Regions from separate parts of the Homo sapiens genome. Here regions 2 and 3 are each linked to region 1. The links come from fine-mapping of genetic effects on gene expression. A gene starts in region 1. Each other region holds a variant in brackets. All regions are shown on one strand. Distances are between the middles of the regions.

Region 1 (8,543 bases):
GGCAAAGAGCTTGGAGGCACTGTGCCCCTGCCCTGGGGTTCTGTGAAACATTGAACTTGGGAGTGACAATTTAGAGTATCTGCTGGAAGAAATTTCTAAGCAGCAAAGCATTCAAGAAATTTCCTGAGGCGGGGCACAGTGGCTCACGTCTGTAATCCCAGCACTTTGGGAGGCCGAGGCGGGCAGATCACGAGGTTAGGAGTTTGAGACCAGTCTGGCCAATATGGTGAAACCCCATCACTACTAAAAATACAAAAAAAAAAAAAAAATTAGCCAGGTGTGGTGGTGCATGGCACACACCTGTAGTCCCAGCTATTTAGCAGGCTGAGGCAGGAGACTCACTTGAACCCGGGAGATGGAGGTTGCAGTAAGCCAAGATTGCACCACTGCACTCCAGCCTGGGTGACAGAGTAAGACTTTATATCACACACAAAAAAGAAGAAGCAGTTACCTCGCTGCTTCTAACAGCCTAATTCATATGCGTAAGCACAGAGATGACTTGAAACTGGAACTTATATTTAAAAGGGAAGCAGAGCATAAAAGCTTGGAAAATTTGCAGCCTGGACATGTGGTAGAAAAGAAAGGCCCATTTTCAGGCAACGAATTCAAGCAGGCTGTGAACTTTGCATGAGTAAAAAGAAGCCAAATGCTAATATTGAAAACACTGGGAAAAGCCTTCAAAGGCATTTCAGAGACCATCTCTTTACAGGCACAGAGGTCTAAGAGGGAAGAATGGTTTTGAGAGCCAGAACCAGGGCCTGCTGCCGTGTGCGGCCTTCGGACACGGCCCACTGCACCGCATTCACTCCAGCTCCGGTCTTGGCTCGAAGGGGCTCGAGTATATCTCGGCTGCTGCTTCAGAGGGTGCCAGCCATAAGCCCTGGTGGCTCCATGTGGTGTGAATTCTGCAGGTATGCAGAGTACAAGAGCTGAGGATTGGGAGCCTCTGCCTAGATGTCAGAGGATATATGGAAAAGTCTAGATGTCCAGGCAGAAGCCGGAGCCCTCATGAAGAACCTCTACTAGGGCAGTGCAGAAGGGAAATGTGGGGTTGGAGCCCCCACACAATTCCCACTGGGGCATTGCCTAGTGGAGCTGTGAGAAGAGGGCCACCTTCCTCCAGACCAAAGATTGATAGATCCACTAGCAGCTTGCACCATGTGCGGGGAAAAGCTGCAGGCATTCAACACCAAGTATGAGAAGAACCGTGGAATTTGAATTTTGCAAAGGCACAGAGGTGGAGCTGCTCAGGTTTTGGGAGTGCACCCCTTCCACCAGTGTGCCCTGGATGTGAGACATGGAGTCAAAGGAGATAATTTTGGAGCTTTAATGGCTGCCCTGCTGGGTTTCAGATTGCATTGCATAGGCCTGTATTCCCTTTCTTTTGGGCAATGTATCTCTTTTGAAATGGGAGTATTCCCATTCAGATGGCTAAAGCCAATGCCTATACCCCATTGTATCTTGGAAGTAACTGACTTATTTTTAATTTTACAGGCTTATAGGTGGAAGGCACTTGCCTTGTCTCAGATAAGACTTTGGACTTTTGACTTAATACTGAAATGAGTTAAGACTTTGGGGGACTTCTGGGAAGGTATGATTGTATTTGCAATGTGATAAGGACATAATATTTGAAAGTGGGCAGGAGAAAATGATAAGGTTTAGATCTGTGCCACCACCAAAATCTCATGTTGAATTGTAACCCCCAGTGTTGGAGGTAGGACCTGGTGGAAGTTGGCTGGGTCTTTGGGTCAGATTTCCCTCTTGGTGCTGTTCTCATGATGATGAGTGAGTTCTCATGAGATCTGGTGGTTTTAAAATGTGTGGCACCTCCCTACTCTCTCTCTCCCTCCTGCTCTGGTCGTGTAAATATGCTCACTTCCCCTTCACCTTTTGCCATTTTTGTAAGTTTCCTGTGACCTCCCAGAAGCTGATACCAGCATTATGCTTCCTGTAAAGCCTCTGAAACCATCAGCCAATTAAACCTCTTCTCTTTATCAATTACCCAGTCTCAGTCTCAGGTATTTCATTATAACAATTATAGAAAGAACAGATTAATACATCCACCTATTTGTTTTTTAAACAATTTAGCACTAATTATATTTTTTCAAAATTCTTCTTTTTATTACTTTTCTCAGATACCTGTTGTTACTGCACACCTACCTATTCTTGTTTCACACGTGACTTTGTTTTATGGATTTACTTTCTTTTCATTATCTCTATAAGGTTACTAAATATGTTAATGTTAAAAATATTTTCACATTTTATATTTTTATTTTCTGAGGTATTATTTTCTAAGATGTTATTTTCATTGCTGTTTTTGTTTTTTAGTTATTGTTTTTGAATTTATTATGATGTCGCTTTTCCCCAAATCTTTAGTGATTACTGCTTTCACTGTAATCTTTACAGGAATAATGCCCTGAGTGATCATGGGCTGTCAGCACTTTATGGAACATGGCACCTATCCCAACCTTGCTGTGGAGGCTGCGCCTAATTGACGTTATGGCTTCTTCTCTGCTTCCTTCCTGAGAGATATCTCTCCCTTCTTATGAGAGGTGTCATAGTGAAGGCCATGGAGTGTGACAACCTGTGTTCTAGTTCTAAAAGCTGGGTGATGTTGAACAAATGTATTATTGCCTGCGTGCCTCAAGTTTCCTCACCTATAAAAAAAGGTTAATGGTAGTGCTAATTTCATGGGACCAGAGTGATGAATTAATGAGGTAACTGACAAAATGCTTGGCACAGTACCTGGAGCACAGGACATCTGCAGTAAACACAGCAGCTACTACCCTTCATGTCATATAGAGACTAGTTTCTTGTTTTAAAGTGTAATTTGGCATCGATTAACATGATTTTATCATTTTTATATTCATTTCTGTGAGTGTGGAGCAGGAGGTGATGATTTCACCCTCTGTGCATCTGCCACATTGAAAAAGAAATTTGCATGGAAATGTGATGACTTTTACAATTTCATTTGACAATTACTCATGATAGGTGAAGGATTGCAAGCCCAGCATGGGAAAGAGAGGTTTCCAGACAGGTCTTTCTTAGTCACAGATGATGGAGGAGAAACCATTTCTCCTACCAAGGAAATTTTTCTAAAGCACAAGTATGTCAGGGAAGCAGTGAACTCACCCTGTACACAAATGTAATTATAGCCACAATTTTTTGGTTATAATTAAATATGAATCAAACCTTCTGTATGGCTTATATTACTCTTACCATATCACTACAAGGTGCATGTTATAACTTCCATTTACATGTAATTAAGTTAAGGCTTAGAGAAGTCAAGTGTCTTGTTGAAAGTCACACAGCTGGAGATTGTAAGAAAAGGAATTCATCTACAGATTGACAAAAAGCAGGGTGAAGAGGATCCAGAGGGAGAAATTGATCTCAGAGTGTCAGAGGTAGACCAAGTACACCATAAAAGCTGGGTTCCAGAAGTCCGGGGAACATGGGAGAAGGCCACTGGTGGGAAACTCAGCATGCAGTAGAAATCCATTTAAAAGCAATATTTGAGTTCCCTCTCTTCACCTGGCACCATGAGTATCAATAATAACCTACTGAATCTCAGGGATGTATAGTCATTATCTCTTTTGATGTTCACTAAAACATGGCAGTGAGACTTATTATCCCAAGGTTAGAAGGCAAAACTGAACCTAGGCAGGCCCAGTAACTTCCCCAACTCCTTAGCACATCTTCTTAGGGTATTTATTCTCCCTCCCTCCTCAGTTCCCATCTGAAGACAGTGATGAATGGAATAGGTGTTCTATGTGCAGAGCAAAGAGTATTGAAATCGATGTGACTGCTCCAGGAATCTGCCCTCCATATTCTCCCCCATAATAAACATATCCCCTTTCCATAACCCATAATCCCCACCTCACCTCACAAAGCAGATCCTTATTACCCTAAGCCCACTTCCTCTCCTGGAAGAAGTCAGGAAATAATTCCTTCTGCTGGGTGCAGGCATATGAAAGTGCTAACGGCCACATGAGACTGAATTTGGGCTAAGTTTTGCCATTTATATTTATAAAAGTTCGGAATAGGGAACCATTTCAAGAGCAGACCTGTTCCTCTCCAACACTGAGCAGGTCCAGTGATCCCTCATCCTGCCCCAACTGAGTAGCACTTGGTTGAGGCTGTTGTAGAATGAGACCACAAGCCAACCACATCCTGAGGTCTTGAGATGGAAAGTTTAGGAAACATTTCATAACCACAGGTCCTTCCTGGCTTAAGAGCACCAAATGGCAAATCACCAAGAAGACATAAAGATGGGGTTAGGAGTCATGGAAGGAGTTAAGACCTCAGGTGGGAAGGAAGCATTATTTCTGCTAAGCCTGTCTGATTCTCCTGAAATGGGGCATGCATAACTGCTTGCATTGTAGCTGCTTGCTGTTCCTGATTTCTGTTTCACAATCCAGAAGCAGGTTACTGCTTCACTCCATCGCAGCCACTTCCTCTTGAACTAAGGGAGGCAGGGCTTGTCTTCTCTCCTCAGAGCAGAGTCTGCGATCTTCCCAGCACAGACGTTTGGACAGAGCAGGCTCCTAAGGTCTCCAGAATGCCCGTGCCAGCCTCCTGGCCCCACCTTCCTAGTCCTTTCCTGCTGATGACGCTACTGCTGGGGAGACTCACAGGTGAGCACTGCCTTCGGTTAAAATCTTTTTTCCTGCCCACTGAGCCATGGCCTGTCCCTGGACTTTCAGGGATTCCGGACAATGACAAGTGCTGCCAAGAAAGGCCAAGGATTAGGCTTTGACTGAGAGCAGAAAATCAGGGAGCTGAGCACTTTCTCTGTGGATCTGCAGCTGGCTACCAGAGGCATTGAACCACAGGACGATTCAACCACCACAACAACAATTACTTACATTTTGATAATATTTCAATTGAAAAAGCAGAGAAGAATCATTATCTAAATCCTCACCAGTCCTGAGGCCCTAGGGCCAAGTGACATGCCCAAGTCCACAGAGTAAGCTCAGAGACACCCTAACAGGGTTATGTGGCTCTAGGCCCAGCCCTCTCTCTTCACCAAACTGAGGATGTGAAGTCTGTAATAGTGCTCACTTGAGTAGGGCAGTGGTGTGGTGTATCCTGGGAGTGTTCAGCCACCATCCTCCCTAAGGGTGCTCCTCACTTTGTCCTCTGTTCCCCCATGCTCCTCCCTCCCCTGTGACCTGATTCTTACCACCCATTTCTCTGTGGCCTCTTCCTCTTTAAGAAGTTCCACATTTGCTGCTTACTGGGTCCTATATTCCTTTCCTAGGGCTTCCATAACAAAGAACTGCAGGCTGGGTGGCTGAAACTACAGATATTTACTTCCTTGCAGTTAAGGAGGCTGAAGTCCAAGATCAAGGTGTCAGCAGGGTTAGTTTCTACTGAAGTCTCTCTCCTTGGCTTATACAGGGCCATTTTCTCTCTGTGTCTTAAACACATGATCTTCCTCTGTGTGTGTCTGTGTCCTCATCTCCTCTTCTTATGAGAATATCAGTCTTGTTGTATTAAGGCCCACCCCAATGACCTCATTTAACTAAATTACTTCTTAAAGACCCTGTCTCCCAAACTGTAACGTTCAGAGGTGCTGGGGATTAGAGCTTCAACACATGCATTTTGTGGGACACATTCAGCCCATAACAGGTACTACAACCTCCTTTGGTTCTCTTAAATTTCCCATGGATAATTTCTTTCCCCTTCCCAAGACAGGCAGGATTGGAGGGCCTTTCCTGGTGCAGCCTGGGAGAACCCTGCTCACAGCTCCCAGACAAGTTACCTGTCCTGATCCCTTCTCAGGCCATGGAGCTGACCCCAGAACCACAGGGCTGGGCACAGCAGCCTCTCAATTCCCCACTGGGCCCTGCTGTGATGTCACCTCACAGGCCCTAGAGGGCAGGGGTCTCACTTTTCAAATTATTTTTCTCACACATACACTGTACCCAAATGACAGCAGTAAGAGTTTAACAATTGAGCTCTTCCTACCATGTAGACACAGTTATTAGCATTTTGCCTGTTTTAGCTCCACTAATCCTCACAACATCCCTGTGTGAAAGCTGCAACTATTATCCCCTATTTCCAAACAAAGACTCAGGCAGAGGGAGGAACTTGTCCATTCATTGTCCCCTACCTCAGTCAGTGGAGCAGCTGAGATTCAAGTCCAGGTCGACCGGCTCCAAAGTTCATTCTTTTAGTCGTGTTATGCTACTAGCAGAAATATTAGAAAATGCAGGGAAGTAAACATAGAATTAATTATTGCCTACCACACTTGTTAGCAACAACCAGAGTTACAACTGTGATGTATGTACTTCTAAATTTGTTATTAATGTGTTGGATGCTTTCTATGGGCCACATATTTTACTTTCTATGGGCCAGATATTTTAATGAGATTTTAACGTGTGTTGTAATTTTATTTAATACACAAAACAAACTTATATACTATCACAATAGGTCACACTTTGATATATATTTGTGAATGTATATGTGTGTGTCTATATATACATATATATGTGTGTGTGTGTATATATACATATATGTGTGTGTATATATATTTGCAAATGTGTGTATACATATGTGTGTATACATATGTATATGCATGTATGCATATAAGTAAGTGTACATGCACACACAGGAGATTTCATTTTTTATCATTGTTTCTCCAAGTTTCTAATTTCAATGAAACTTTTAACAAAATATTTTATTTTTATTTGACAGAACTGTATATACTTATCATGTATACCATATTAATGAAATATGTGTACATTGCAGAATGCCTAATTTGAGCTAATTAACATATGACCTACCTTGTATATGTATCATTTCTGTGGTGAGATCTCTCAAAATCTGCTTTCAACAATTTTTGAGGTTACGAATTGTGTTATGAACTCTAGACCCCATATTGTACAATAGATTTGTGGAACTAATTTCTCCTAACTAAACTGAAATTTTGTATCCTTTGACCAATATCTCTCCAAATGCACCCCCTGCCTAGTGCCTGGTAACCAATATTCTACTATCTACTTCTATGAGTTCAACTTTTTAAAATTCCACATATGAGAGACATTATGCAGTATTGTCTTTCTGTGCCTGGCTTATTTTACTTAGCATAATATCTTCCAGGATCATTTATATTGTTGGAAATGATAGGATTTCCTTCTTTGGTCAGGCTGATTAGAATTCCATTGTGTATACCAATTTCCTTTCTCCATTTATCTGCTGATGGACATCTAGGTTAATTTAATATCCTGGCTATTGTAAATAATGCTGCAATGGACATGGGAGCACAGATATCTCTGTGACATGCTTATGTCATTTCCTTTGGATGTATGCCCAATAGTGAGATTGCCAGATCATATGATAGTTCTATTTTTAATTTTTTGAGGAGCCTCCATACTGTTTTTGCTAATGGCTCTACTAATTTACATTCCCACTAACTATGTGCAAGAATTCCCTTTTCTCCACATCCTCTCCAAAACTAGTTATCATCTTTTTTATAGTAGCCATTCTAACAAGTGTGAGATGATAGCTCACTGTGGTTTTAATTTGCATTTACCAGATGAATAGTAAGGCTGAGTATTTTTATAGGTCTGATGGCCATTTTAATGTCTTCTTTTGAGAAATGGGTTTTAAGATCTTTGGCCCATATTTTAGTTGGGTTGTTTTCTTAATATTGAGTTGTTTCACTTCCTTATATATTTTGTATATTGACTTTTCATTAGATGCATGGCTAGCAAATATCTTCTTCCATTCTGCTGGTTGTCTTTTCACTCTGTTGATTGTTTCCTTGGCTGTGTAGAAGCTTTTTAGTTTGTTGTAATGCCGTTTGTCTATTTTTCTTTTGTTGCCTGTGCTTTGGGACTCATATCTGAAAATTCATTGCCCACACCAATGTCATGGCACTTTTCTTCCAGTACTTTTACACTTTTAGATCCTACACTTAAGTCTTTAATACATTTTGAATTGATTTTTGTGTGTCATGTGAGAGGAAGGTCTAATTTTATTCCTCTACAGATGGATATCCAGGTTTCCCAATGCCACTTTTTGAAGAGACTGACCTTTCCCAATTGTGTCTGCTTGACATTTTTGTCAAAGGTCAATTGAGTGTAAATGTGTGCGTTTATATCTGGGCTCTCTGGTCTGATCCATTTGTCTATGTGTCTATTTTTATGCCAGTGCCATGCTGTTTTGATTACTATGGCACGGTAGTCAAGTTTGAAATCAGGCAATGTGATGCCTCCAGTCTTTTTGCTCAAGATTGCCTTTTCTACTCACAATTTTCTATGACTAATGTGAACTTGAGGATTGTTTTGTCCATTTCTGAGGAAAATGTCATTGAAATATTACTAATAATGAATTGAATCTGTAGATCTCTTTGGGTAGTATGTATATTTTTAACAAAAGTAATTATCTAATCCACAAGCATGGATATCTTTCCATTATTTTTGTTCTATTTATTTTTCATCAGGGTGTTATAGCTTTTTTTGTGGAGGTCTTTCATGTCCTTGAGTAAATCTGTTTCTAGCTATTTTAGCTTTTTTGGTAGTAATTGTAAATGCGAT
Region 2 (8,543 bases), 49 kb after region 1:
CAGCCCAGCAGAGCACGTATCTGCCCGTTCATGGTGCTGAGGACTAAGGATGAGGAGATGAGGCATTTCCTAGAGAGTGTTTGGGGCCCATGTGAGCAAGAGTTGAGATTCTCCCCTCCGGCTGTCAGGAGCCCACTGTCTTTTGCTTATGGCTGCAGGGTAACCAGGCCTGGGCACCCAGGAGGGAGGCTTCTCCCTAACATTGCATGAAGTCTAGAATCTCAAAGGGACAATTGAGGTGGCAGTCAGTGTTGGAGCTCAAGAAGTTAGAACACTTGCTCTGTTAATGGACATAAGTGCTTGGTGGGACACAGGAAATGCCCACTGGGACACATGGAGAATCGGGAGACAGTGCCTTCATTTTGTTCAGCCACGGCATCTTCATCTGTAGAATAGAGACAATCATGGACTCCTTTAGGAAAGTCGTAAGCGTAAGGTTCTCTCTGTAAATCACCTAGCACACTGTAGGCACCCCCAAAGTGAGGTGTTATTTCAAGATCGTGTGATCTTGGGCCAGTCTTGCCTTCCCTTGAGTCCTCGGTTTCCCCATCGGTGAGATGCTGATTATCATGGCCTATTCTGGGTTCTGTGAGGATTGGAGAGGATGTGCACAGAGCCCCTAATGGTGGTGTCATTCAGGTTATTACTGAGCTTCTGCAGAACTGTCGTTAGGAGAACACAGGCAGTATCCCAGCTGCCTGGGCCTCTTCCCGGCTCTGCCACTTCCTGGCTCTGTGACCTGGGACAAGGTGCTTCACCACCATAGGCCTCGATGTCCTCACCCTTTGATGGTAACACTGACCTCACAGACTGGGCCGAGTCTGAAGGAGTGATATTGTGTAAAATGCTTAGGGCATCAACAAGCACACAGTAAATGCTCAATAAAGGTGAGTTGTGTTAGGGTGAAGCTGTGTGACCTCAGACAGGTCAGGGCATCTCTAGGCCCCAAGTATAAATGGGGTTTGGGTTGGAGTCCAGTGGCTTTCAACCTTGGCTGCTCATTAGAATCATTGGGAAAACTATCAAAAAAAAAGTTTGCAAAGCTGGACCCAGGAACCCCCCTAAAATGCCAATTTAATTGCATCTAATTTGGGCCTGGATATCTAAAGTTCTTAATGGCTCCAGAAGATTCTCATACACAGCCCCCTAGCAAAAGCGGTGCCCCAGGTTTTGGGGCTTTGAGAACAGCTTTTTGGGTCATGGGTGCTTCAAAACAGCCATTCTGGAAACATTCTGGGAGGCCCCAGAAGCCTGAACAGGACCCCTCCCATGCTACTGGCCTCAGGGCCCAAGATAGGAGACTGGGACAAAGCCTGGCTCAGATGCAGCCTCAGGGCTGGGGAACCTTCTGTCTTGAAAACATTTGTATCTAAACACGTGCTGGAGTCCCAGCAAATCCTCACTCCTCAGCCCCAGAAGCCTCCCTCCCTCAGCACTCCCAGATGTCACTGAGGTATCTTTTCCCTCCTTCTTCCAAAATGCTTCCAGCTTCCCCTGTGATCTTACTTGAAAGCCAGTTCGCCAAACATGGTGGTTGCTGCTCCTTTTATCATTTGGGTTTTTTCTGGCAGCTGCGGTGAGTAGGGTTTGAGCCTTTCCTTGGTGTTTGTGTGCCTCTTTGTTCTGTTGCCTAAAGAATAGCTATGCAGCTCCAGAAGCAGTAATGACCAAACCTCATGATTACAGTCACAGGGGTTATTTATTAAGCACCTACTACATGCCAGGCTATGCCCTTGCACTTACCCTCACTCATCTTCCCAGGGTGGGGTTTCTATCTACTTTTGGCCCTTGGCCACCAAGGATCCTCTCAGAGTCTCGCCCTACACAAGGGCTCACATGAGGACCCCCTCTGACAAATAGAAGGAGGATTGAAGTGCTGAGAGGTACAGAGAGAGCAGCCAGCATCAGGCTGCCAAGAAGCCCTCAAAAAATCGGAACTGAAGACAGCCTCTCAGCCTTCTAGGGACACCCATGCTGCTGGTGTCTCAAAGACTTGACATCTTCAAGTGACACCCTCCTTACTGTGCTCTCACATTATTTCACGCATATCAGGGAGCAAGTTAATATTGGCAAAGTCAAACGTATAATATGTGCTTTCTAAGAGGACGGCAGAAGGTTCAAGGTAACAATTAGCAATTTGCAGACACCCTTAAAATTCATCTACATGGAGAAACTGCACTCGTTGTTCTGATTCTCCAATGTGTTTGCTTTCAAGGCCCAGAATAGGTTTCTGTCTGTTGGTGTGGCCTGGGTCTTTGTCTCTTGTAATTAATTAACGATGAAAAAGCTAACCACCTTTGGCTTTCTTAGTACTCAGTGATCCTTGTTTTTCACCCAAACCTGTCCTAACTGAAGATTCAGATTCCCAAAAATTTCCTCTTTTCAAATTTAGGACTTCCAGCAGATTAGAACAACTAACAACAACAGCAAAATGATTGTTAGGAAGGCCAAAGGAAATAGCATTTATCTGAAAGATAAAGAGGTGCAATTTGGGTACACTGAGTCAGTGAAACCCTGAATAGTGTCCCGTATGGCAATACAGGACAGGTTTTTTATAGGGGATTTTCACAAAAGGTTGTTTTTGGAAACAGTTCATTAGCTGGTTGAAAATCCTCAACTGCAAACCCACTCTCATTGGTTATTTCATTAAAGTACTCCAGGTGAAAGAGATCAAAATCCCACGGACCCTGGCTTCAGTTGTTATCCAGGTCTATCTACTGCAACATCCTGTGGCTTGACCTTTAGCAGGTGTGATTCCAATGCTCTTACAAACTCTTGGCTCTACGTTAAAGCTTTATCCTTAATTAATGCCTTTTATTTGACAGAACGAAATATTTGTGAAAAGAAAAATACGGAATGTTTCATATTTTTATAATACCTAAAGAGAGACCTCTGTGTATCTGTAAAGTCTGGGTTAAAGATAGATCTGTGTTTTTTGGGGGAAGCATCTTCTGTGTTTGATCCAGAGCAAAACTGCTTCCATTGCCCCATTGAATCCTGGCGACATCCCAGGAAGTAGAAACGCCGTCCTCCGTCCTCCTGTTTTGCGGATGAGGAGCTGGGGTTGTCAGCCCACCCCTGTCCTGGGCTGAGCAGCCTGGTTGCAGCTCTCACGGTGGTGCCACTTTGCCATTGATCCCTGTATTGGCTTCTATAAATGCCCTCTCTGAGGTTAGTGAGCCTTCCGGGGGAGGACAGCTAGGACCAGTTAATAACATGGAGGGAGACCAATCAGTAATTTTGTTCCTATGCCCAGATTGGTGGAAGTCTCCCTGTGTGGAGAGGACTTTGAACTCAGGCCTGGACTTCCCTCTGGGCCCTGCCCCTACTCACTGTCTGACCATGGCCTGGTTCTCACCTCTAAGAGCTGTTGTGTCCTGATCTGTAAAATGAGAATAAGGACACTGCCTTCACGACATTATTAGAAAGATTAAAAACTAACGTCTCAGAAGGTTCTTAACATGTCAAACGCTTATCATCAGTGATGGTCATCTGAGTCATGTCTCCTGATTATCGATGGTCCTTTTGTAGCCAAACCCTCTGCCCCCGTGGTATCGGGCCCTGCGGTGAGGGCCACACCTGAGCACACAGTGAGCTTCACCTGCGAGTCCCATGGCTTCTCTCCCAGAGACATCACCCTGAAATGGTTCAAAAATGGGAATGAGCTCTCAGACTTCCAGACCAACGTGGACCCCGCAGGAGACAGTGTGTCCTACAGCATCCACAGCACAGCCAGGGTGGTGCTGACCCGTGGGGACGTTCACTCTCAAGTCATCTGCGAGATAGCCCACATCACCTTGCAGGGGGACCCTCTTCGTGGGACTGCCAACTTGTCTGAGGCCATCCGAGGTAGAAGACCCTCACACCCAGCCCAAGCCCACACCTGGCTGCCAAGCCCACTCCCCTCTCCCCAGGCTCCAGAGCTTGAAAGGCCTGGAATCTAATTCCTAACTGTGTTGTCCACCTCCCATGCACCTAGGTGAGCCGGTCACTTACTATCATTTTAATGGCAGCTGTCAGGGGACCAGCAACCATGTGCCAAGCTCTGGGCTACAGAGTTTCATTTATTTCACCAAGAGCAACTACAATTAGTGAGCACCTACTAGGAGCCAAATCACTATGTGCTCGGCGATTTCACTGATTTTGCTACAGTTCTTACATTCCAACTGCATGCCAGGGGTTGTGCTTGTAGATTTCACTCATCCTTAGCCTAGCAGCAGCTAACAGTCCTTGGGCACCTACTGTGCGCCAGGCACTGTGCTTAGTAATTTCACTCATATGCAACGAGTGCCCTCAATGTCTGAGCACCTGCTGCCTGCCTAGCACTGTCCTGGTGATGCCCTCACTGTGTTGGTGGGAGCTACGTTATTTAGCCCTCCCTGTGATCTGTCTGTGCCACAAGATCAGAGCTTCTGCCCTGTGCTGTTTCAGTTCCACCCACCTTGGAGGTTACTCAACAGCCCATGAGGGCAGAGAACCAGGCAAACGTCACCTGCCAGGTGAGCAATTTCTACCCCCGGGGACTACAGCTGACCTGGTTGGAGAATGGAAATGTGTCCCGGACAGAAACAGCTTCGACCCTCATAGAGAACAAGGATGGCACCTACAACTGGATGAGCTGGCTCCTGGTGAACACCTGTGCCCACAGGG[A/G]CGATGTGGTGCTCACCTGTCAGGTGGAGCATGATGGGCAGCAAGCAGTCAGCAAAAGCTATGCCCTGGAGATCTCAGCGCACCAGAAGGAGCACGGCTCAGATATCACCCATGGTGCGGTTACTTCCCATTTTTAAATTTTGTCTTTTTCTTTAATGTTAAAAGCAATATTCATGCTTGTCATAAAATAAGCTAGAAGTCTATAAATATAAAGTAGAATTTTAACGTCTACATTAAAATCCTACACTCCATGGGTCACCACTACTTAGAAGGTTCAAGGTAACAATTGGCCATTTGTAGACACCCTTAAGCCCCATCTACCAGGAGAAACTGTGCGTCAAGTCTGATGCACAACTTGATAGATATTTTGACATAAATATACATTAAAGGAAAAAAGAGAGAGGGAGGTGATCCGTTTGTTTATGAAGTCCTGTGTCTCGCCTTCTTCTGCATTTCTCGCCAGCACAGCACCTTGCCTTTTACACTTTCTAACCTCTACCTTGTCCCTATTCTATCCTAAACTTTTCCATCCGCATCTGTGACCTCAGCCACCAGTCTCCAGCATCTGCTCTATAAATTTCAGAAAGACAAGTGAAGTTTAAGCCTGGACAGACCCCCAGGTGACCTGGTCACAGCACAGGCTTCTTTTGTGTTCTGATGGTGATATTTGACCAACAATAATCACAACCACTCTGCACATTTACTATATGCAAATTTCTGTTCATCTCTGATCTCCTTTCCTGCTTCAAACACCCAGTGAGCTTGGAGTTTTACCAAAGGGGAAACCAGGACTTAGGAAGTAATGAGGGATGTTGTTGAAGACTTCTTGTCATTAGACCAGGTTATTGGTCCAAAGTAATGAAGGTAAATCTAGTCCCTGAGGACAGGCTCACTACCAGGCTATAATGGGAATTTGTGCTAATTAGAGAAACTTTCCCTTTCTGCTGCGCTTTGTCCCAAGGACCCAAATTTGGCCAGTGTTCCCCCTCTCTATAACCAAAATATGTCTTATTTCCCTCTCTTTTAATACCAGGAGGGGTCCCTCTACTCCAGTCGAAAGACAATCTTTGAGTGCTTTGACCCGAATACATCCTCCCACATCTCAGGGTCCCACAACTTCCCCATCAGGGCCCAACCCCAGCATAGAAGCCATTAAAGCTGACATTCAACATCCTTTGTGATTCTGCTACTCTTCTAATGATGGCTGGGGCCCAATCTTCTATTCTTTCTGCCCTGAGGCTCCAGGAAATAAGAATAAGGACTCAGGTTCCTTCCAAAACACCCTATGATGTTTGCGTCATCTCCTGGGTCAGTGCTGAGTCACGGATTTGTTCATGTCCCTGCCTGCCAGAAGAGGAAAGACACGAAATAGAAGACAAACAATGTCCCCAATCATCAGAGATGTGTGGAAGGTGCATAGTCACGTCCACTGAAAACTTGCTCACGCATGCACCTGCAGTTGCACATTGAGGGATCATGTGATCAAGGACATTTTTCACAAAACCAGTGTCATTGTCCACTTAAATTTTAAGTGTTCAAATCACTAAATTTCATAAAGTTATTAAAATAATTTCCTCATATCATCTAAAATGGAGCATACATTCACATTTTACCAAATTTTTTAGAACCATTTTCCTGTGTGTTAAATTTGGTTTTAATTTATCTTTAAATGCTTGTGTTTTCCTTTGAAAGATCTGGGCCCCAGGGATATTTTTGGATATTTTATAATCATAGATTCAATGTCGTTAATAGTTTAGGGTTATTCACATTTTTCGTTTCCTATTGAGTGAGCCCTGGTAAGTTGTGTTTTGCATAACTTTTGGTCCATTTCATCTAAGTTGTCATATTTATGTGTGTAGAGTTGTTCATAATATCCTCTCATAACCCTTTTGGTGTCTGCAGGGTCTGCAATGGTATCCCACGTTTCATCCTGATACTAAAAATGTGTCATTTCTCTTTTCTTTTTCATCAGTCATGCTAGAGTTTTTTCCCATTTTATTGGTGTTTTCAAAAGATTGACTCTTTGTTTCAATGGGTTTTTGTATTGTTTTTGTGTTTTCAGTTTCATTAATTATCTGCTCTCTTCTCTCTTTTTTTTTTTAAATTAATTCCTATCTCCTGCTTTCTTTGGGTTTACTTTGCCCTACTTTTTGTAGTTTCTTTAAGTGCGGGATTTATATTTATTGACTTGAGACCTCCTCTTTTCTATGTCCTCCCTTCATCACTTTCTGTGGCTGGGGGCTGGTATTTGGGCATAGAGTCCCTGCTGTTTGGCTGCTGGGCTGTTCCTCAGTCCTCAGGTTCTTACCTCGCTCTTCCACCTTGGAAGTTCTCCTATGCCTGCTCCTCATGATATTTCTTGGGTTCATAGTTGTACTTCTCAAGGAGGCACAGGATGAGATGAGTCTGTACCATCTGGACAAGGTTGAGTCTTTTCTTAGACTTCCAACCACCCACTGGGGCTGAGAGAGGGCTGCCATTTTTGGGTTCTTTCAGTGTGTCTGACATGGCATCCTGGCACATATGCTAAGTCTGGAAATGCATTTTAGGTTGTCTAGGCTGGCAGGCAAACTGCAGGATGCCTTCTGTGACGTGCTGCATCAGTGGCATGGGAGCCTAGTGAGAGACTGTGCCCTAGGGTTAGGTGAGTGTTCCCTTTTGACTCAGCCATTTTGCAGTTTGGCATTCTCTCTTCAAGCAATATTTAGGGCCTGGATTGTGTAGAATTTACTTTTCCTTTTCTGTTTCTTCTTTTGGCTTGGGGAGGATATTTATAGCGACAAGTAGCGATGCCACTGCAATTGTCCCCAGTAACTCTGAAGTCAACTGACAATCTTTGAGTGGTTTGACCCAAATGTCTCCTTCCACATTTCAGGGTCCCACAACTTCCCCATCAGGGCCCTATCCCAGCATAGCAGCCATTGAAACTGAGATTCATGCTCCGCTGTGATTCTGCTACTCTTCTATGATGCCCAGGACCCAATTCTCTATTCCTTCTGCCCTGTGGCTCCAAGAAATAAGAATCTGCAGTGCTGCCAAGAAGTCCTCTGGCTTCCAGCTGAACTTTAACTCATGATGAATCACTCTTAGTTTCTCATTGCCTTCCTCCCAAGAGTTCATGCCCAGCAACAGCTAACACCTTAGTTCTTATAACGACCATTTCCCAATCTGTTTTCAAAAGGCTAATGGCAAGGAATTTCCTTCCTGTGGTAACACTATCCCAGTTTAGTGCCAGTGAAAGTGTTATCAATCGCAACACAACAGCAAGTCACGGCTTCTCCAGTCCCATTCACCACCAGCCCTGGGGTCCTCATTGCTAGCTGATGAGTAATCAGATTCCCAACTTATATTTTAGAGTCTTCTTTCCAGACCACTTCCCAAGGACAGTTTCTCTGGGAGGCCACCTGAGGATGCATAAAGCAATGCAGGAGGCATCCTAGAGTGCTGTCAGGGTCAACATGCCTCAGGAATGAGGAGGCAGGAGTGTAGGAGGAGGGAGGTGCTGAGCCACAGTGCAGGCAGTACAAAGATGCAGCTGCTCTTGCAGAGAGGCAAAAGGCCGGAGGGTCCTGTAGATTTTTTTCAAATTGAGGGGAAGGGCTGGCCCTTCATATTCCCAATGCAGTCTATCTCTCATGTGGGCTGCCCCTTAGAAGGAATAAACTTGGGCAGTGCAGCTCTCCTCAAAGGAGAGAAAGCCCCAGAGAGCCACCCATCTGAGAACTGCCGGCCTGCAACACTCCAACACTCCAGCGGCTATAGATGCTGAGGTCTCCATTCCTTCCTTAAGGACCCACCAGCACCATTTTATTTTAAAAAAAATTTTTTTTAATACCTTTGTTACTTTTAACATCCAAAACCCCTTATTTAAAAAATGCAAACAGTCCCAACAT
Region 3 (8,543 bases), 59 kb after region 1:
TGGGACTGGCCATAAACCACAGACTCTCTCCAGGCTCTCAAGAGTTATCCTGTCTTCTGGATTCCTGCCTACCCCAACTCCCCCAGCCTTGTTGAGGTTCTCTACTGCCTCCTGAATACACATGAACCCCTATACCAATTTTAAGAAAAAAATGATTCTCTTTCCTCTTTGTCCAAGCATCCTATCCCTCAAACCCAAAAAGAAAGAAGCTCTCCCTTCTCTCTCTGTGATGGAGACAGTATTTCTTCTAGTATCCTGCAGCCTTCCCAGTCCTGCTGCTTGTGGTAGAAATGCTGCCACAGCCCAACATTGAGGAGCCCTCGATGACTGCCCTTTACAACTCATATTCAGTTCTGCCTCCAAAATGCATGTGTCCACTTACATGAGATGGTAAATGTTTAACAATGGACTTTCTGAAAGGGAAAAACCAAAAGCTGTTTTGCAGTGCTTGCCAATTTCTCTAGTGTAATAACTCCCAACCTGACCAATTTCACACTGCCAACAGTTAAACAACCAGATTGCAAGATTCCTGAAATTTAACAATTGGTTTTCAGGGCCCAGTCCAAGCCTGCTGCTGGAAACCTCAGAGTTAAATCCCTATTCTCCACACCTCTCACCTCCACCACCCCTCCCTGTCCCAGCCAGCATCATCTCTTTGGGGACCACTCCTCTGGCTTTCATTTTTCAGCCACAGTGATTCTTTGGAAAAGTCAAATCATATCACTTCTCTGCTTCTTCCCCAACACAGCTGCATGGCTCCCGCTCTCCCTCCTTCAAGTCTCTGCTCAATGTCACTTCATTAAAGGCACCTTCTATAAACTACCTTGTATAAAATATTATTTATTTTCTCTATCCCGGCATTCTAATTTCTCTTATCCTAATTAATTTTTCTTTAGCCCTTATTTTGATGAGTATTATGCCGAATACAGGCAGCCCTCACTTTTCATGGCAGTGCAAGATTGCAAAAATGACTGTGCAACCTGAAACCCAGGAAAGCAGTCTCCATAGTCAATCAGAAAAACAATGATCATTCTGTGACCTTTACCATTTTTTGTCAAAATATTAGAAACTCTCACACTCTCAGTTACAAATGTAGAGGACAATGAAAATATAATGAAATAAATATTTATTTGTGCACTACAATTCAAAGCATTAGAAACATTGAGAGTTCAAGTGCTGTTTCTTTGTAAAAATGTATCCAGAGTAGTTGGAAGAGTGCTTGCCTTTTTTTGTATATTTCTAATATGGAGTGATATAGTTTGGCTCTGTGTCTCCATCCAAATCTCATCTTAAATTGTAATCTGCATGTGTTGTGGGATGGGCCTGGTAGGAGGTGACTGAATCATGGGGGCGGACTTCCCCCTTGCTGTTCTTGTGATAGTGAGTTCTCATAAGATCTCAGTGAGTTCTCATGAGATCTGGTTTTTTGAAAGTGTGTGGCAAGTCCCCCTTCGCTCTCTCTCTCTCTCTCCCTCCTGCCACCATGTGAAGAAGGTGCCTGCTTCCTTTTCTCCTTCCACCATGGTTGTAAGTTTCCTGAGGCCTCCCAGTCATGCTTCCTGTTAAGCCTGTGGAACTGTGAGTCCAATTAAACCTCTTTTATTCATAAAATATCCAGTTTCTGGTAGTTCTTTATAGCAGTGTGAGAATGGGCTAATACACGGAGCAAGCATTGTTTCTTTTCATTTGTTTATTTTATTTTTATTTTTTTGAGATGGAGTTTCACCCTTATTGCCCAGGCTGGAGTGCAATGTCGTGATCTTGGCTCACTGCAACCCCCGCCTCCAGGGTTCAAGTGATTCTCCTGCCTCAGCCTCCTGAGTAGCTGGGATTACAGGCATGTACCACCACACCCAGCTAATTTTGTATTTTTAGTAGAGATGGGGTTTCTCCATGTTGATCAGACTAGTCTTGAACTCCCGACCTCAGGTGATCCACCTGTCTTGGCCTCCCAAAGTGCTGGGATTACAGGCATGAGCCACCATGCCTAGCCAGCAAGCATCATTTCTATTATACCTTGGTGTTTTGCCATCTTTCTAAGTTTGGACTAGCTTCCAACATCTTATCCCTTGAATTTTCAATATTGTGGAATCACTCCAGAAGATCCTTTCATGTGAAGTTTTTTGCTGGCATTTCAACCTTTGGGACATCTTCAGCCCTTTTATTACCACTCCTCTCCCATTTGTGGCAGTTTGCGTTTACTACCTCCCTCTGGCTGCCTATCTGAAGTTCCTGCATCAGGGTCTACATTGCCACAGTCAACTATTTGTACTTCTAGAATTCCACTCACATTCAATTTGAACCTCACTTGCAGCATTTTCACTTCTCATTTCTTCACTGCACTTTCATCTTGGTTGCAAAATTCCTCTTTCAATTATTCATTTCTGTAAAATGTCATATGGGCTCATCACTGGGAGGCAAGGAGGCAACCCAACTATAGGATTTGCTGTTTGAGTAGGAGAGCCATAGGGACCAATCACCAACAGACTTTGAAAGACACAACATGACTGGTTACTGATCATGACGAGCTTTTATTACCATGGTGATTTGTGGACTGAAGAGCTAGCCCAGAAGTTTGTACTCTATGCAAATTACATTAAATTTACTATGGCACCTAAATTTTGAGACTTGTGTTGTGGGACTGATGTTACTTAACTAAACTATGGTAAGAGAAATGCATGCATGTCATCACCAAAGTGAGAACTGCCTGTATTTATCTATGTTACGCAAATGGAATGTCAGTTATATCGTGGGGGGTTGGGGGTGGGGGAGGATTATCTGTATCCTCAGTTGCCAGAACTGTGTCTGCCATATAATAGGCTGTCAATTTTTTTAAATGAGTGAATACATCATTGAGGTCATTGGTTTCTACTAGGTGTTGGATTTCAAAAGAAAACTTCTCTTCATTTGATCACTTGGCTTGTGTGCTGTATTCTCAAGCTCTTTCTTTAAAGACTACTCTCTCTTCTTTCTGTTTAAAACATTCCATCAAAAATTCAACATCCTCTAGAAAGTAAGAAAGTGCTAACAAGAAAAAAAAGTCAACCCCAAAACCAAAACCCACAGTGACTGGAGTACATCAAAGAGGCGCAGGAACCAACTGAAAGAGCTCCCAAAGGCCAAAGCTGGAACACTTTCAGCAAAAAAATAAGTAAAGTAGTAATGAGTTATAGTCCAAAGTATAAAATAAATATCTGAGTCCATACTGATATAAATAAATGATTGAATAAATTAATGGGAAAGAAGAGAAGAATCTCCAGTGCAGAAGAGTCCCAGATAATTTATTTATACACTCCACTCTAAAGGAGGTGGAACATAACTTCCACTCCTGAAGTGTGGGCTGTGCACTGCGACTTCTTTGCAAAGAGTACAGCATGGAAAAAAGGAGAAAAAATAACTTTACAGTGGAAAAATCTGACAAATACAGCTTCAGCCAGGTGATCAAGAGTTCATCAACAGTTATAAATCAACATCAAGAATCATAAATCATGTCACTAATATGTACCTTTAATATGATGTGATGAAGATGACACTTTTCCTCTATTACCTTCCCCCCAAAACTCACAACCCCAATCTAATCATGAGGAAAACATCAGACAAATTTCAATAAGGAGGCATTCTGCAACATCGGGCCCAGAACTCCTCAAAACTGTCAAGGTCATCAAAATCAAGGAAAGTCTAAAAAACTGTCATAGCCAAGAGAAGCTTGAGGAGATATGACAAGTAAATGTAACAGGTATCCTGGATGGGATGCTGGAAGAGAAAAACGACATTAGGTAAAAAGAAAAGATCTAAATAAACTATGAACTTTGATTAATCATAATGTATCAATATTGGTTCATTGATTATAATAATGTATCATATCAATGTAAGATGCTAATGATAGGGCTCAATTTTTCTGTAAATCTAAAGCTGTCCTTAAAAAATTAAGTCTATTAGAAAAAATTAACGTCTTGTCCTCAGCTAGGTTTTATTTGCCTCTTGTACCCCGTGGGGAACAATGCAAGGAAATGTGCGGTAGGGAGACTTTGTTGATATTCCAAAGTTTTATCTCACTTCAAAAGCCTGAGGTTTCCTTTCCTCTCGTCCTTCCTCTGTCCACTACCAGAGCTCACCCCAGATCTAGGCACTCAGATCCCAGAGGAAGTGGCTTCTCAATCCCCCGTGATGCTCACCCTAAACTTTTCCCATTAGTAAAATCCAGGTCAGACCAAGTGGGATCAGAAAACTTTGGGTTATGTGGGTGAGCTGGGATAGCTTTGAGGACCTGACTATGAGTGAGTGAATAATGTCCTGAGCCCAAGTCTTCACAGGAACAAGTTGTTCCCATGAATTGTGTAATGGATGCTGAGAGGCACCTGGCTGTGGAGATGGTCCTCAGCATCAGCTCTATTTGCGATTGTCTCAGCTGAAGGGAGTGCCCTTGCTTAGGTCGTATCTGGTAACAAACCACATCTCATTGGACTCATCAACCTAGTCGTATAAAGGCCCAGCTCTCTTATCCTAACTCAGAGCAACTCTGGAGGAATATCCTAGTACCAGGCTCCATGCAAGGTCAGCTGAGGTCTTCAATGGGACTTCATTGCAGCCCAGCTTCTTCTTCTACCCAGTCCTGCTTCCATCTTCTCCCGTCCACAAGTGTTGATCCTAAAAGTACTCCCTGAAAGATAACCTGCTTGTTCATCTTCACCCCAGAGTCTGTCTCCCAGGGAACCCAACCTGGGACAGTGAAGCTATGCTACGTATCAGAAAGGTGGGGATCCCTTCATCTCTAAGGGAGCAAGTCAGTCACAGAAGAAAGCCTTGTTTATAGTACCTCCAGATTAATGAGAATCCACAAAAATGTTTATTCAAGAGAGGGACATAATTAAATCTATGTTGTAAAAAGACCAGTCTGGCTGAAGAAGGAGAAAGAGATTATAGGGGGCAAATAAAAATGGGGGTACCCTAGTGAGAAGGCAATTGTTCTTATTCAGGCAAGAGATGATGATAGAGATGGAGAAAGAGATTAATTCAGAAGGGATTTAGGAGGTAAATCCAATAGGGCCTGGTAGGGGCAAGATAGGAGTGTGAAACTATGCCCCCAAAGAGTTAAAGAAACCAGTCACTAAGAAATTCTTGAGTTTACAGGATAGCAGATAAGAAAAAAAAAAAATTGCTAAACTGCCGAAACTTCCTCCACTTGTAGGATAACAAAACTGACTAAAATCTGTTGGAACCAATATGGCCAACTGGAGTTTGCTCAGAATGAGCTTGCTGATGTCACAGCCTGAGTTTCTACCACGTATTTCATG[A/T]TGACGCCCCAGGGTTTTGCACATGGGAGCCGTGAAGAGGCATAGAGAGATAACTGTACATGCCCAAGGACTTTCCAGACCTCCCCTTTCCTTTCACAAATCACATACTAATCCCAGAATCCAACCCCTAAACTTTTGCTAATAAAACTACTGCCTTGAAGCCAGCACATGGAGCTAGATTTGAGGTAGACTTCTGTCTTCCTGTTAGTCAACTTGCAATAAAAAGCTTTTCTTTTCTCAAAAGCCTGGTGTCACAGTATTGGCTTCTAGCACATCAGGCAGCAACCCCCTTTCACTTGGTAACAAGTGGATAAGTGAGGGTATAGAACATGAGTCCCTTCCTGGTTTGACAAACTGCTTAGATGATGGTACCATATACAAAACAGGCATGGTGTGGGAGAAGATAAGGTTTGTGAGTGCAGATCTGAAACTCAAACTTGAATATTTAAGGTATACAAAGAGGCCAGGCTCAGTGGCTCACACCTGAAATCCCAGCACTTTGGGAGGCTGAGGCAGGTGGATCATCTGAGGTCAGAAGTTCGAGACCAGCCTAACCAATATGGTGAAACCCTGTCTCTATTAAAAATACAAAAATTAGCCAGGCGTGGTGGTGGGCGCCTGTAGTCTCAGCTACTCGGGAGGCTGAGGCAGGAGAATCACTTGAACTCGGGAGGCAGAGGTTGCAGTGAGCCGAGGTCATACCATTGCACTCCAGCCTGGGCAACAAGAGCGAAACTCTGTCTCGAAAAAAAAAATACATATATATATATATATACAAATGAAGATGTCAAGAAGGTTGCAGAATATACAGGTCTGTATCATGGGCCCAAGATTACTCAGCTCTTAGGAGGTGCGTTCAGGATTCTAGCCTAGATTATATCTGATTCCAAAGCTGGCACTCTTGGATACTGACCCGTGAGTACTGACTCTCCAAGGAACTTAGAGTCTAATGAAAGGTGAGAAGATTCCTCAGAGTAGGGGAAGGGGAGGATGATGGAGGCTGGAGGAATGTTCCTGTCTAGTTCCAAGCAGGGGCCATGGATAGGAATTCCTTTGTGGAATTCATCATTTCAGAACAACGGGATAGGATGATGACATCACAAGGGGATGGGGACTCTTGTCGTCTCAGAGAGAACGTGCCAGCCTGGCTCTGCTTTCTTTTCCTAGAGGGTCTAACACCTCTCCCGGCCCTGACATCTAGCTGGTTCCTGAGGAGGAGGCAGAAGTCATGAGGAGGCAATGGGGAAACAGCCATGGCAGCCAGTGCCTGCCTGTGGATGCTTGGACATTAAAGGGTCACCAGCTGAGTGTGGGCTGAGTGTCCCTGAACACAACATTTGTGCTTAGGAAGAACCCATTCCAGAGCTGAGAGAGAAGGATGCCAACATGCTGCTTCCTCCCTCTTTCTGGGGGCATTTCTTCTGCCCCTCCAATCCCATCTCTGAGAGCTGGTCCCAGGTCCAGCCCAAGCAGGAGAGGCAGCCCTCACCTTCCCAGGTGTTTGTAGGCATGTTACTCTCCCTCCTAGAGAGTGTTCCCCGCAGCTCCGCCTTCCCTGCAGGCCTCCTCCATCCTCTAAAGCACAAATCATCACCACCTGCACAACTCGAATGTCTTTCTCAGCCATGCCTGATTCCTCTGCAGGAAGGAAAAAGGAAGCAGTTCCTGGTAGTGTATGGAGGGACCCACAGAAAAGCCAAGAGCCCACAGCAGATATTGCTTGTTTTTTACCTCTAACTACTCTGGAGTGCAAGAAAGGGCATCCATTGTAAAGTCCAACTCTTACCAAGTGGGTGAGGCTATAGACATCTTGTCTCTTTCTTCAGCTGTGCAGCTCAGACAGGCCCAGATGTTGAGCTCATGCAGGAGCTAGACCCATACCTGCGCATCATGTGGATGAGGCCTTTGTCTAGCCTATGTGTCTGAGGCTCCTAGATAGGCAAAGGCCATGAAGTTGGGGAGAACCTGTGAGATGGGATGAAACTCAGGAAGGAGTATAAGGCTGTGGGTGTCAAGCCCCCCAGCCCCAGCAAAGCTAAATACTTCCAGCAGCAACTTCCTAGCTTGAAGCAACCTTGTCTGTTCAATTTTATAATCACAAAGGAAAAAGTGTCCCAGTCCCCTGGCCTTTCCTCTCATCACAATCCCCTTCCTCTGACATCACAGAGGCAAGAACTGTCTTCTCTGCTCGGAGCACTGAGTCGAGGGCATCTCCAGGACAGGCATTCAGGCAGAGCAAGCTCCAGGTTTCACCACAATGCCCATCCCTGCCTCCCCACTCCACCCACCTCTGCCTTCCTTACTGCTGTATCTGCTGCTTGAACTGGCAGGTGAGTGGGGCCTCAGTGTATGTGTGTGGTGGGTTCTCCCCTCTGCCTGTTTAGTGAACTCTCCCTCACCTGTTCCCATAGAATTTCTTTTGGGAGGGTTTTCTCCATCTTATCCCAGAACAGGCAGAACTCAGAAGACTACACTGGGATGGTCCCCAATTCTGACAAAGTCTCCCGGTGGCCATGTCTGTTGCAAATCTCTTTGCTCAGGTAAACGACTCACACCTATGGTCACAGGGCGGGGCACAGCATCCATCACAGCTCTCACCCTCCAGCCTCTGGAGGGTGTAATTTATTTTATTTTATTTTTACCTTTACTTATTTTTTTGAGACAGGGTCTCACTCTGTCACCTAGGCTGGAGTGCAGTGGTGCGATCTTGGCTCACTACAACTTCCACCTCCTGGGCTCAAGTGATTCTCGTGCCTCCAACTCCCAAGTAGCTGGGACTACAAGCACGCGCCACCATGCCCAGCTAATTTTTGTCTTTTTTGTAGAGATGGGGTTTCACCATGTTGCCCAGGCTGGTCTCAAACTTATGAGCTCAAGAGTTCCACCTGCCTCGGCCTCCCAAAGTGCTCGCATTATAGGCGTGAGCCACCACACCTGGCCCCTGGCAGATTTTACACTTCTTTCTGTGAAATTCAGTTTTTTATTTCTCTGTTGCCACTGCATTTGGCTGCTCTTAAAAAGTACTGCAAACTGGGTGGTTTAAATTACAGAAATTAATTTTCTCACAGGTCTGGAGACTAGATATTCAAAATCGAAGTGTGGGCAGGGTTGGTTCTTTCTGAGGACTGTGAGGTTGAATCTGTTCCATGTCTGTCTCTGAGCTTCTAGCAGTGGTAGCCTCAAACATTTGTTGGATGGCAGGTGGCACCACCCTCCCTGTATCCTCACATCATCTTACTCCCATGTATG

The links. PIP is the estimated chance that this variant, and not a neighbour inherited with it, causes the effect.
Region 2: its variant is fine-mapped to the expression of SIRPB1 in whole blood (INTERVAL, PIP above 0.99).
Region 3: its variant is fine-mapped to the expression of SIRPB1 in whole blood (TOPMed, PIP 0.93).

The regions. Positions count from the first base shown.
Region 1 is chr20:1,615,960-1,624,502 of GRCh38, reverse strand. SIRPB1 (signal regulatory protein beta 1) reads left to right here and starts at 4,494. Exons shown (of 6, transcript NM_006065.5): 1 at 4,494-4,634. The coding sequence starts at 4,559.
Region 2 is chr20:1,567,026-1,575,568 of GRCh38, reverse strand. It overlaps SIRPB1 (signal regulatory protein beta 1), which reads left to right. Exons shown (of 6, transcript NM_006065.5): 3 at 3,532-3,849; 4 at 4,432-4,764. Among named protein-coding and RNA genes, the nearest start is that of SIRPD, 14 kb to the right of the region's middle. The variant A/G (reference allele first, on the strand shown) is at 4,651.
Region 3 is chr20:1,556,662-1,565,204 of GRCh38, reverse strand. SIRPB1 (signal regulatory protein beta 1) reads left to right here. Exons shown (of 6, transcript NM_006065.5): 6 at 1-3,820. It overlaps LOC107985409 (a long non-coding RNA gene), which reads right to left and starts at 7,198. Exons shown (of 3, transcript XR_007067493.1): 1 at 7,081-7,198; 2 at 4,540-4,660; 3 at 3,668-3,753. SIRPD (signal regulatory protein delta) reads left to right here and starts at 7,500. Exons shown (of 4, transcript NM_178460.3): 1 at 7,500-7,624. The coding sequence starts at 7,552. The variant A/T (reference allele first, on the strand shown) is at 5,295.